3 separate regions of the Homo sapiens genome follow, and regions 2 and 3 are each linked to region 1. Evidence: fine-mapped expression QTL. A gene starts in region 1. Each other region holds a variant in brackets. All regions are shown on one strand. Distances are between the middles of the regions. Region 1 holds the start of NUBPL (NUBP iron-sulfur cluster assembly factor, mitochondrial). Region 2 overlaps NUBPL (NUBP iron-sulfur cluster assembly factor, mitochondrial). Region 3 overlaps NUBPL (NUBP iron-sulfur cluster assembly factor, mitochondrial).

What was found. PIP is the estimated chance that this variant, and not a neighbour inherited with it, causes the effect.
Region 2: its variant is the best candidate, but not a certain one, in a credible set for the expression of NUBPL in fibroblasts (GTEx, PIP 0.70).
Region 3: its variant is the best candidate, but not a certain one, in a credible set for the expression of NUBPL in nasal epithelium (TOPMed, PIP 0.59).

The regions. Positions count from the first base shown.
Region 1 is chr14:31,559,073-31,563,315 of GRCh38, forward strand. It overlaps NUBPL (NUBP iron-sulfur cluster assembly factor, mitochondrial), which reads left to right and starts at 2,332. Exons shown (of 11, transcript NM_025152.3): 1 at 2,332-2,475; 2 at 2,996-3,143. The coding sequence starts at 2,368. It overlaps NUBPL-DT (NUBPL divergent transcript), which reads right to left and starts at 2,259. Exons shown (of 3, transcript XR_943720.2): 1 at 2,039-2,259. RefSeq lists enhancers at 2,175-2,574, 2,501-3,056.
Region 2 is chr14:31,630,504-31,634,746 of GRCh38, forward strand. The region is part of intron 4 of NUBPL (NUBP iron-sulfur cluster assembly factor, mitochondrial); the gene reads left to right. Among named protein-coding and RNA genes, the nearest start is that of NUBPL, 71 kb to the left of the region's middle. The variant C/A (reference allele first, on the strand shown) is at 2,530.
Region 3 is chr14:31,710,019-31,714,261 of GRCh38, forward strand. All of the region lies in intron 6 of NUBPL (NUBP iron-sulfur cluster assembly factor, mitochondrial), which reads left to right. Among named protein-coding and RNA genes, the nearest start is that of NUBPL, 150 kb to the left of the region's middle. RefSeq lists an enhancer at 1-436. The variant A/G (reference allele first, on the strand shown) is at 2,304.

The DNA.
Region 1 (4,243 bases):
AACAACCATAGAAGTAGGAATTAACTATTTTATTGATAACAAAGTGAAATTTAGAGATGTTAAGTCAAGCCTTCAAGAGAGAGACCTCATGTCTCCTTGTCTCTGATCTTGCCCCGCTGATCCATTTCTTTTTTAACCCAGTAATCATAGTGGTATTTCTAAAACACAAATCTGATGTTACTTTCCTGCTTAAAATCCTTCTATAGTTCCCTTAGGATAAAGTCCAAATTTCTTTACAAGATATATACAGCCTTTCTTGATTTAGGCAACCTCCATCTAACCAACCTTCACTCCATCCTCATCTCTTTTAGTCACTTTGTCCTAAGTTGCACAGATCATTTACAGTTCTTAACAATCCAGAAAAGAAATGTATTTTCTACTCCTCTTGTGTTCTCTCTTCTTTTCTCTCTTCTTTCTTTTTTTATTTTTATTTTTGATATCTTTTTTATTTTTTTATTTTTATTTTTTAGTATTTATTGATCATTCTTGGGTATTTCTCGGAGCGGGGGATTTGGCAGGGTCATAGGACAATAGTGGAGGGAAGGTCAGCAGATAAACATGTGAACAAGGGTCTCTGGTTTTCCTAGGCAGAGGACCCTGCGGCCTTCCGCAGTGTTTGTGTCCCTGGGTACTTGAGATTAGGGAGTGGTGATGACTCTTAACGAGCATGCTGCCTTCAAGCATCTGTTTAACAAAGCACATCTTGCACCGCCCTTAATCCATTTAACCCTGAGTGGACACAGCACATGTTTCAGAGAGCACGGGGTTGGGGGTAAGGTTATAGATTAACAGCATCCCAAGGCAGAATAATTTTTCTTAGTACAGAACAAAATGGAGTCTCCTATGTCTACTTCTTTCTACACAGACACAGTAACAATCTGATCTCTCTTTCCTTTCCCCACATTTCCCCCTTTTCTATTCGACAAAACCGCCATCGTCATCATGGCCCGTTCTCAATGAGCTGTTGGGTACACCTCCTAGACAGGGTGGCGGCTGGGCAGAGGGGCCCCTCACTTCCCAGACGGGGTGGCCGGGCAGAGGTGACTCCACCTCCCGGACGGGGTGGCGGCCGGGCGGGGTCTGCCCCCCACCTCCCTCCGGGACGGGGCGGCTGACCGGATGGGGGCTGCCCCCCACGTCCCTCCCGGACGGGGCAGCTGGCCGGGCGGGGGCTTTTCTCTCTTCTTTCATCTTTCTTCCTTCTACTCTCTTCTTCTTTCTTCTTCCTTCTTCTTTCTTCTCCTTTTAATTTCCTCTTCCTCCTTCCTCCTTCCTTCTTTCTTCTTCTTCTGACAAGGTGTCACTCTGCTGCCCACGCTGGAGTGCAGTGGTGCAATCATAGCTCACTGCATCCTTGAACTCCTGGCTCAAGCAATCCTCTTGCTTTGGCCTCCCAAAGTGTTGGAATTACACGCGTGAGCCACCATGCCTAGCCTTAGCAGTCCATTTCTAACCTCTTTACAACAATCTCCTTGCCATTCTCCCAGCTAACTTCTACACATTATTCAGATTCAGCATTCAGCTTAGATATTACCTAATTTAGAAGCTTCCCCTGATTGAATTGAGTGCCCTTTCTTTGTATCACTTTGTCCTTTCTCCTGTATCCCTCAATGCTTTTCTCCTGTACTTATCATATTATACCGCAATTTTGTTGTTAACTTATTCTGTCTTTTGCACTGGATTATAAAGCCCTTTAGTGGAGGAATTATGTCGGTCTCAATGCTGAATATTTTAAGTCTACTGTAGTACTCGGTACATAGTAGTTGCTCAACGAATATTTGTTAAATAAATGAGTCTTAAGTCTGGAAGAACTTGCAAAGTTCTTTACCAGGTTGCTGGTAAAGCAACCTGACCTTTCTTTCAGGGAACTGTCAGCAACACAAGCCATGAATACCAACGCAAAACAGACTCTCACTGTAGATCACACGGGAAAAAATAAAATAAAAAGGTAAAATCCTTAACGGTGGTAGTATTTAAATGACCATATACTGCTTAGTAAGAAATCCTGGGGTCATTTTCAAGGTCCCCCATTTCCTACTTTTGTTAAGCTGGGTCAAGTCTCTTTAAACTTTCTCCGTTTTCTTGTCCATAAAAAGAGTATACTAGGTAAGTCTTCTGTCTACCTCGGGACTTCTGTAAGTATCATAAGAGATGTTTTATATGACAACACTTCACAAACGTTTAGTAAAACGCTGCAAAATGTTTGTAGCTGGCTATAAACAAGATCATGCAGATTGGGTTCCTGAGCCAACAAACCCAAAGAAGACCGGTTGCTAGGAAGAGAAAGCCGAGCGTTGCTCCGTGACGTCATCACTCCGCGCCACCCGCGACAGTTTCCCAGCAGGGCTCACAGCAGCGTTCCGCGTCATGGGGATTTGGCAGCGTCTGCTGCTTTTTGGTGGGGTGTCGCTCCGGGCTGGTGGCGGGGCCACTGCCCCGCTTGGGGGAAGCCGAGCGATGGTTTGTGGGCGCCAGGTCCGTGGTGCTGCAGGGCAGGGGGAAGCGGGCTGACAGATGCTGGGCTGCAGGGCCGCAGATGCCCTGGCATTGCTTCTTGCCAAAGACTCGCCTCAGTTCCTGAGACCCCCAGTGTGCTGGACGTGCCTACTTTTCAGGCAGGCCCAGGCTGAGGCGTGGCGGGACTTGAAACACAGTTAGAACGTAGATGTGGTATTCTACATTGCTTTCTTGGCTTTGGGTTATTTATCAAATAGATTGAAGAAAAGCAAAACACGTGGAAGCCTTATCTCCGTAAAGAGGCAGCGTTTTTACATTTTTAAACGTTCAGCGTATCCTGCTAGAAAAATTTCAATTTAAGCAATGTGTCTTTACAATTGTTATCAGTAGTAGTAGGTAAATGTCTCCATAGTGAAGATGAGCAGAATTAGAAAAGAAAGCCCTCTTAATTGCAAACCCCAGATTGTTTTTGCTTTTACAGTGTGATGATGGAGATGGCTTATTTAAAACGGCTTTTTATTATTATTATTTTTTAAAGTTGTCTGGCGCCGGGAGTGAGACCCTAAAACAAAGAAGAACACAAATCATGTCCCGAGGACTTCCAAAGCAGAAACCGATAGAAGGTGTTAAACAAGTTATAGTTGTGGCTTCTGGAAAGGGTGGAGTCGGAAAATCTACTACAGCAGGTATTATAGGATATTAATTCTATTCCTGATTAAGAACTTATGCCAACAGACAAGTGCACACTATTGAAATTATAGTTTTGTGTTTTAAAAATTTATTTGTGAAGTTCCTAACATGTGATTCCTTAGTTTCAGGAGTTGGTAGCGGGTAGACGCTTAGATTTTGGAGTTAGACAAAAGTAGGTACTAGCCGGGTCTCCCACCCCTTAACTCAGGAAAAAGTGGTCAGATTGTACAGCAAATCTTCAGTTCACTTAACTGTAAAATGGAGATAACTTCTTTCATAAGATGGTTATTCAAATTGCACAAGCTAACCACTTAGCTTAGTGTTTACTAGTGTTCAATAATTGGTTGCTGTTATTTTTAAAACATCTAGTAACTTTTTTTTTTTGTTTTTTTTTTTTTTTTTGAGACGGAATCTCGCTCTGTCACCCAGGCTGTAGTGCAGTGGCGCAATCTCGGCTCACTGTAAGCTCCGCCTCCCGGGGTTCACGCCATTCTCCTGCCTCAGCCTCCCAAGTAGCTGGGACTACAGGCGCCCACCACCACGCCCGGCTAATTTTTTTTTTGTATTTTTAGTAGAGACGGGGTTTCACCGTGTTAACCAGGATGGTCTCCATCTCCTGATCTCGTGATCCGCCCGCCTAGCCCTCCCAAAGTGCTGGGATTACAGGTGTGAGCCATCGCGCCCTGCCTACTAGCTCATTTTTCCCCATTTTTATCAGAAGGGAATTCTGGAAGAATTTGTCAGATGTTTTGGAAAAGTTAAGATTTACCAAATATTGTATTTGTGGTGGATCACTAATCCATTACTATTTGATAGATACCATATTGTTAAAAAAAATTAATAATCTGTTCTTAATGAATTCATGTGCTCTCCTGCACATTTTTCCTTTCTTTCCTAAAGGTTTACAATCCATCTGGTTGTTTTTAAAATTTAGAAGCTCTTAGTTTTTGGTTCTAGAACCTTTTGGAGTACATTTTTCAGTTTTCAGTGGTTTGAATCCTTTTGCATGCTCTGTGATTACTTGAACTGGATAAGGATGGAAGGTGTTTTCATGATTGTAGCCATAAGTTCTTTGCGTTTTGTAATTTGTTGGGTC
Region 2 (4,243 bases), 71 kb after region 1:
TCATGAATATCTTGACACACTCTGCCTAGTTCTAGAAGTCCCTCCATATACCTCTTTCAAAGCCTAAAATATTTATCATCTGCCCCTTTATAGAACAGTTTTCCAGTTTCTGTCGTATGCATTTAAGTTACCTGGAATCAGTTTGGTTATTTTGAGGCTTTTGAGCTTCCTTGGGTGGGTCCAGAGCAGCCTTTAGTGTCAAGGGCTAATTTACCCCTTTACTAAGGCAATATCTTTCTAATGACTCTCTACCCAATGCTCCATGTATTGTGAGATCTTTCCCCTTTGACTGATGGGAACATAAACTGTTCTCAGCTGTGTGCAATCTCTGGGAATTATACAGCTTGTATCTCCAGTGATTCTTTCCCCACCATTGGGTAATTTTTCTCATTCATGTGAAAACTCCACAGGACCCCTCTGCAGTTGTGGGGAGTTCTCTCTCTATGTCTCCTTTCTCCCCAGTATTCTGCTCCATAAATTCCAGCTGCCTTGGCTTCCCCTAACTCTCATTTTCTTTTCTCAACTCACCAAGATGAATGGGCTCTGTTTGGATTCTCCCTCCCTGTTTTTCAGCCTGGAAGCTGTCTCCAGGACAATAAACTGGGGCAGTCATAGAGCTCATCTCACTTGTTTTTCTTTTTTCAGGAGTTATAGTCTTCCCTGCTGTAATTCCATGTCTAAAACATAGTTTTTATGTTTTGTCCAGTTTTCTAGTTTTTTACAGGTGTCTGTGTGTGTGTGGGTTGGGGGGCTACTCAGGGGTTAAGTCCCATTTCTGTTGCTCTTTTATGGCCAGGAGCAAAGCTCCATTTATAGCTGTTACTTTTTTTTCCCTCTATGTATTCTCTACACCACTAAAAAGTCAGATGAATCCATCATCTGTATAATCACGTTTGTTTTTATAGCAATTAAGTGCCATAGCCACTTGTATTAGTATGGGTTCTCCAGGGAAATAGAACCAATAATACACACACACACACCCCCACCCCACCCCCCACACACAAAGAGATTTATTATAAGGAATTGGCTCACATAATTATGGAGGCTAAGTCCCAAGATCTACATTCAGCAAGCTGGAGACCCAGAAGGGCTAATGGTGTAGTTCCAGTATGAATCCAAAGGTCTAAGAACCAGTATAGCCAATGATATAAGTTTTAGGTGCTGTAAATTCCAGTCTGAGTCCAAGTCCACGTCCAAAGGCAGAAAACCGACATCCAAGCTCAAAGATAGGCAGAGAGTGAATTCTCCCTTATTCCACCCCCGTTTTTTTTTCTATTCAGGGCTTCAATGGATTGGATGATGCCCACCCACATGAAGGCGGGCAACCTGAATTACTTAGTTTACCAATTCAAATGTTAATCTCATCCAGAAACATCCTCACAGACACACCCAGAATAATATTTAACCAAATTTATGGGTATACGGTGGCCCAAAGTGACATAAAAATTAATCATCATACTCCTCAAACTCTTAGGGTTGCCCTTCATCTAAGTTGTATAATAATGAATCAGTACCTGTGTTCCCATTTCCTCCCAGCATGGAGATAATCCTGGAGTTTCTAGATTAATCTCAATCTCATTTTGACGGTTGTTTCCTGGGGCTACTTTCCAACCAAAACACATAGCATATTCAGAATAATTTGAGAGGGACTATTTACAAGATGTGGGAGAAGTGTAGGGAAACAACAACAGATAGGATAGTAACTGATGAGCAATACTGGAGCAGTTTACTGTCCCTACACCTGAAGAGTTGGGGGGAAGGAGTATCCAAATCTGAGAGAGAGTCTTGTAGAGATGTCTGCCTTCGGAGGAACAATGACACTTGGTGGAGGACCTAGCCAGCCTGGGGCTACCCTACAGAGAGGAAGCCAGGAAATTAAATTCCTTGACCACCCTCTCCTCCTTCTTTCTGATCTCCTGCTTTTGAGGCAGTCTGTATAGAAACCCCTGGGGCGGCAGCGGGCAGAGTGAACTGGAGGGGCAGTTGGAAATATTTGGCAAAGACAGCTAGGTTGGAGTAGCTGCCTGGCCCCTTTCCTTTAGAAACAGGTGTTTCAAGATACACAAAGTTTGAAATGAGAGAAAAAATAGTTTATAGATTATTATTTTCTTGCCTTTCTAATACTCCCAAAGTAGTCTTCCATGTATGTTCTGAAGAACTGATGAAAGCAAGAAGAAATAATGTTAAATTATCCAGAGTTGTTTAAACTCATCAGCAGATGCTGTTATTTTATTGATAAAGCTGGTGATATTAAAAATTAATCAAGTTTGCCCATTGTAGTAATAGGTCAGGATTTAGATACTCCATAATCCACACTGTATTTTAAGAAAAGTATCCATAGGGAAAGAAGAAAATATTCACGTCCATAAAAGTGGTTTATTTAACATTGAAGCATAGTAGTGGCAAATATTTATATGTTAATCTATATTTTACATATTTCTACTTTTAAATTATTAATAGACATGGATGGGTAATTTTAGGTTTAATTCAGACTTTCTGTAAGTCATTTAGAGGAAGCTCAGTGTGAGG[C/A]ATTCTTTGCTATAAACAGAATGGGTGAACATTTACTGGGTGATATCTGGTAATTAGCAACAAATTTGGAGCATCCAGGAAAGATGCTGCTGCTTTGCATCTTTGGCTGTGTATGCCACTCAGTTTGTGGAAATTCAGTCCTGTTTTTAGGTGCATAGTGCATGGCCTTTGACCTACCTCTCTGCAGCAGTATCTTCAAACCACCTTCACCTCTTGCAACTGGCAGCCGAGGTGGGTTGCATGGTGCAGTGGTGCTGTTACCACACATAACCACAGATTATCACCAAACATATAACGTATTCTAAAAATAAAACACTTTTAAAAAATTTCAGAAACATATTTGAGCATTTTAATAACTGAGTAGAAATTAGTCGTAGTTTTATAACATTTTAGAGCTTGGAGAGATCTTTGCAAGTTTATTTTACTGATGAGATTTAGATACAGTCACATAGCTTATTTAATGATTGAGATTCAGTCACGCGCATTATTAGTGAAGTGCCAACATAAGAACCAGGATCTTCTGATTACCTTCAGTGATTTTATTATGCAAAGCTTTTGCTCGTTGTAGATATTCAGAGTTACAGAATCCACAAATGCATTATAAATAATGGTCTGGCATCAACACTGAGGGAGATTTTGTTGTTCCATGACAGCTCTATTTATTAACTGGTTTTTCCTTATTTTGGTCAAAAACTTGCTTCCTAATAACTTTCACATATTATTCCTAGTCCTGTCCTCATGAGAATCACCTAATTCTTTTTCCTTTGATAACCTCTGAAATATTTGCACACTGTGATGAGCTCAGAAAAACAACTTTAGGTCTTTAGCTTTTTCTTATATAATGCAATTTTCGATATAATTGCCGTTCTGGTTGCCTTTCTAGCCATGGATCACTTTGTCAGTATCCCACCTGCTTAGGGTTCCCAGGTTTGAACGTTGTGTCCAGGCATATTCTGAAGGGATATAGTGAATGCACTTTTAGTCACCCAATATAAAATGGTGGGCAATACAGTAAAAGAAGAAAAGCGACAAAATCAGTTCTTTTTTTTTAATTTAATTTTATTATTATTATACTTTAAGTTTTAGGGTACATGTACACAATGTGCAGGTTAGTTACATATGTATACATGTACCATGTTGAGTTTGCTGCACCCATTAACTCGTCATTTAGCATTAGGTATATCTCCTAATGCTATCCCTCCCCCCACCCCCCACCCCACAACAGTCCCGAGAGTGTGATCTTCCCCTTCCTGTGTCCATGTGTTCTCATTGTTCAATTCCCACCTATGAGTGAGAACATGCGGTGTTTGGTTTTTTGTCCTTGTGATAGTTTACTGAGAATAATGATTTCCAATTTCATCCATGTCCCTACAAAGGACATGAACTCATCATTTTTTATGGCTGCATAGTATTCCATGGTGTACATGTGCCACATTTTCTTAATCCAGTCTATCATTGTTGGACATTTGGGTTGGTTCCAAGTCTTTGCTATTGTGAATAGTGCTGCTATAAACATACGTGTTCATGTGTCTTTATAGCAGCATGATTTATAGTCCTTTGGGTATATACCCAGTAATGGGATGGCTGGGTCAAATGGTATTTCTAGTTCTAGATCCCTGAGGAATCGCCACACTGACTTCCACAATGGTTGAACCAGTTTACAGTCCCACCAACAATGTAAAAGTGTTCCTATTTCTCCACATCCTCTCCAGCA
Region 3 (4,243 bases), 150 kb after region 1:
CCCTCTTACAGAAAAGGTCAAGCTGCAGGATAGTATTGTAATTTGTACTTCCCTCAGGTGGCCATTTTTCCCCATCAGAGAGAGAGTATTGGGGTCAGGCTGTAGCACAGAAAAAAAATGTGTCACCTCTTTTTCAGGGTTTATGGGTCAAATTGGTCCCAATGGCTTAGGATGCATTTCAAGGGTGAGCCTGTTGATGCCTGAGTGTTTCCTATCTGAATGACAAAACCGCCCGCAGATTTGGTTTGTTTGTTTCTCCCCCTGCCCAAGAACCTGCAATGGTCCCTGGACCCTGCTGATTGGAATAGTTGCACTCACCGATGCAGCAGCAGAAACAACCCCTGCCCAAGAACCCACAACAATCCCTGGACCCTGCTGATCGGAATAGTTGCGCTCACCAACGCAGCAGCAGAAACACTAGCTTTTCTCCCAGACCACAAGGAGGACTAAGGAAGGTCGGATTTAGTGACCCTTACTGACGCATTCTCGAAAACCTGCACCCTTTCCTGTCCTCCTAGACCACAAGGAGGACAGAGAAAAATCAGATTTAGTGGCTGTTACAGACGCATTCTCGAAAACCTGTTAGAGTCCTAAACATTCTCCTGTTAGTACTGGAACCTTACCCGTGTCCTATAAAGATGTTATGCCCCCAGAATGAAGTGGAGGGCCATACCCTGATGGAGGGAAGGGATCTCCAGGGTTGGAAGAGTGACACCTTTTGTCTTCACTTATATGAATAGGAAGGATACAATTTCTGAGGCTCCCCATATCCTAGCTTCAGGAATAGCTTTTGTTAGGCCTGCTTGTCTGAGGAGGGATCCTAAAATTCCGGATAGTTCCCCCTACAATGGGGCTTTGGGAAAAATTATGTCTTTCTGATTGGTGAGCCTGGGTGCCTAAAGAAGGAAATAGAGTCCTGGAGTTTATACTAGAAATCATTCTTATAGGAGAAACTAGAAAAGCACCAGAGACAGGGAGTGATTTTTAGAAGCAGGACTAACCTCGGAGAAGAGAGGTGAGGGGAAGTTTGTCTGACAGGCATTAGGACCCAGGAGGCAAGGGTCAGGATAGATAGGATAGATGGGTGAGTCTCGCTTGGGCGACATGCCTTTGAGGGTTCCGCTCATGGCCACAGGGTCAACCAACTTGTTGTTCGGACCCCGGAGCTGAATGGCTTTCCTCTCTGTCGACCCTTGGCTCGGCCCAGAAGTACAGGAAAAGTGGAAGCTGGTTCTAGGCAAACCAACGCTCCCAACTCCAAAGAGTCAGGGGATGTTAGAGAGCCCCTTCCCAGAAAGCCTGACACCCGTGTCTTTAGTCTGGTTGCCGCGCTAGTAGCTTTTAACTGGCCGACAGGTGCCCGGTATTTAGCCCCTGAATTCTAAGGAGAAACAGGACAGAATAGCAAGCAAAAGGGGTCCAGTGGTACTCACCGCTCGGCGATAGGTGATAGTCTTACTGCTTGGCAATAGGCGATAGTCTTACTGCTTGGCGATAGGTGATAGTCCCTTCGTGGTTGCAAAAATGTGTCTGGAATTGGTGGGTTCTTGGTCTCGCAGACTTCAAGAATGAAGCCGCAGACCCTCACGGTGAGTGTTACGGTTCTTAAAGATGGTGTGTCCAGAGTTTGGTCCTTCAGATGTTCAGATGTGTCCAGAGTTTCTTCCTTCTGGTGGGTTTTTGGTCTTGCTGACTTCAGGAGTGAAGTTGCAGACCTTCGCGGTGAGTGTTACAGCTCTTAAAGGCAGTGCGTCTGGAGTTGTTCATTCCTTCCGGTGGGTTCATGGTTTCGCTGGCCTCAGGAGTGAAGCTGAAGACCTTCGCGGTGGGTGTTACAGTTCATAAAGATGGCACATCCGGAGTTGTTTGTTCCTCCCGTCTGGAGTTGTTCATCCCTCCCAGTGGGTTCGTGGTCTCGCTGGCTTCAGGAGTGAAGCTGAAGACCTTCGCAGTGAGTGTTAGAGCTCGTAAAGGTGGTGCAGACCCAAAGAATGAGCATCAGCAAGATTTATTGTGAAGAGCAAAAGAACAAAGCTTCCACAGCATGGAAGGGGACCCGGAGCGGGTTGCTGGCTGCTGGCTGGGGTGGCCTGCTTTTATTCCCTTATCTGGCCCCACCCACATCCTACTGATTGGTCCATTTTACAGAGAGCTGATTGGTCCGTTTTGACAGAGCACTGATTGGTGCATTTACAAACTTTTAGCTAGACACAGAGCGCTGATTGGTGCATTTACAAACCTTTAGCTAGACAGAAAAGTTCTCCAGGTCACCACCCAACCCAGAAGCCCAGATGGCTTCACCA[A/G]TGGTACTCGCCGCAGGACTTTGCAGCACCTAGCCCCGGCACTCTGGCAGCCCAGAGGGAGTTCGTCCCCTGATCAAGCCCAGCAGGCACTGGCTGGTTGCGCCCAGTGCGGGGCCTGTGGAGCCGTGCCCACCCAGAACCTGTGCCAGCCTGTGAGTGAGGCACGCAGCCCTGGCTCCCACCCATGCCTCTCCCTTCACACCTCCCTGCGAGCAGAGGGAGCCAGCTCCGGCCTCGGCCAGCCCCAGAGAGGGGCCCCCACAGCACAGTGGCGGGCTGAAGCGCTCCTCGAGTGCAGCCAGAGAGGATGCCGAGGCCAAGGGGGCACCAAGAGTGAGTGAGGGCTGGTAGCATGTTGTCACCTCTCACCAGTGTTACCAAAACATCAGGGGTTTGGTCTGGGTCCTGTGGCTCTCTGCACAGAAAACCAGTCACTGAGAGAATGAGTATTGCCAGGGAAGAAGGCTTTAATCACGTGCAGCAGCTGAGACAATGGGAGATCAGTCTCAAATCCATCTCCTTGACCAACTAAAATTGGGGGTTTATTATAGCAGGGAAGAAATGTAATTATGTGTGGGAAAACAGGAACTAGGGAGGGGTAAGGAAGAGGAACTGGTTAACGAGAAGCAGGTGACCACTTAGGAACATAGGAATTAGGGAGGGGTAAGGGAGCAACCTGATGGATGAAGGGTCTGCCATCTCATTGTCTGGATGTGGTGATCTGGTGAGTTTCAGTTCTTTGATACTTTTTGAGAAGGCTGAGGATCATTTCCTGAGAAAGGAACTTAAATAAGACAAACGTTAGTTTTAAGCTTTAAGACCAGAAGGGTCAATTTCTATATTTATTTTAAAAAACTACTGGGTTGGTTTCACTAGCCTTTTTAGTTTCTTCCCTTTCTCAACTTGAGTGCCCTTGAACTCCACTCTCATGGCACACCAGGAATTTTATCCCCTTGAAGTATTCATCTTAATTACCTTACCATAGTTTTTCGTCTTTGAGTTCTTTTATTAAGGCCATTATATGTCAGATTCCTTGACTGTTTCACTCTTTCTGTACCTTTCATTTTTTTCCTAACATGTTTATATATGGCACATTATGTCACTGGCTTGCTGATAATTTCAGCTCCTTCGTATCTTTCCCTTTCAGTTGTGCCACAAACCCATTGGTACATTCCTTTTACTCTAAACCCATAAACTCCAGTTTAGAATGGATTCAGCATTCGACTTTCTCTATTCTTACGCTTGGGCTGCTGGGTGCTGCTAGAGATGTCCTTTTAAGTGGCATGTGGATGGCACTATGAATTAATGATTTCTAGCCTTGCTCAACAACCCGTAGGAAATTTTTCTTCTATTTTTTTTCTCTCTTGCTTAGAAACCTGTTATTCTAGGCAGCCCTCTCTTTTATTCTCCGTAGGAACTATTTAAAATCTGCTTTGTTATTCTGAAGACCTCTGTCCTTCTACCTCTCCCTTTACTTTTAATGCATGATTCCATTTTCTGTTTCACAAAGAAAATTAAATTTATATGGTGCAAACTTTCTCAATTACCAGCCAGCCTCCTTAAAAATGTATCTGTATCTGAATTCATTCTTGCCCTCTTCCCTTCTGTATCTGGTTCTTAGTCTTTACTAACTCTTTTCCATCAGCATTTAAACATGCATGTGGAAGACAGTACTGATTGGCTATGTAGAAACTATTCCCAGCCCCTGTCTCTTTACTGCTTAAAAGTAGGTCTAGAAAGTCAAAAGATAATCTAGTTGCTCTTAGAGCTGAGTGTGGCCATGTGAACCAGTTCTAACCAATGAGACACAAGGAACAGTCTGTGGAGATAGCCTCTATGTAAGATGTTTTGCTTCCTAATAGAAAGGCAGGTTTTGTTCTTCCTCTTTCTTTGTAGGGAATATAAAGACATGATCAACTTGGCAGTGGTAGCCATTTTGT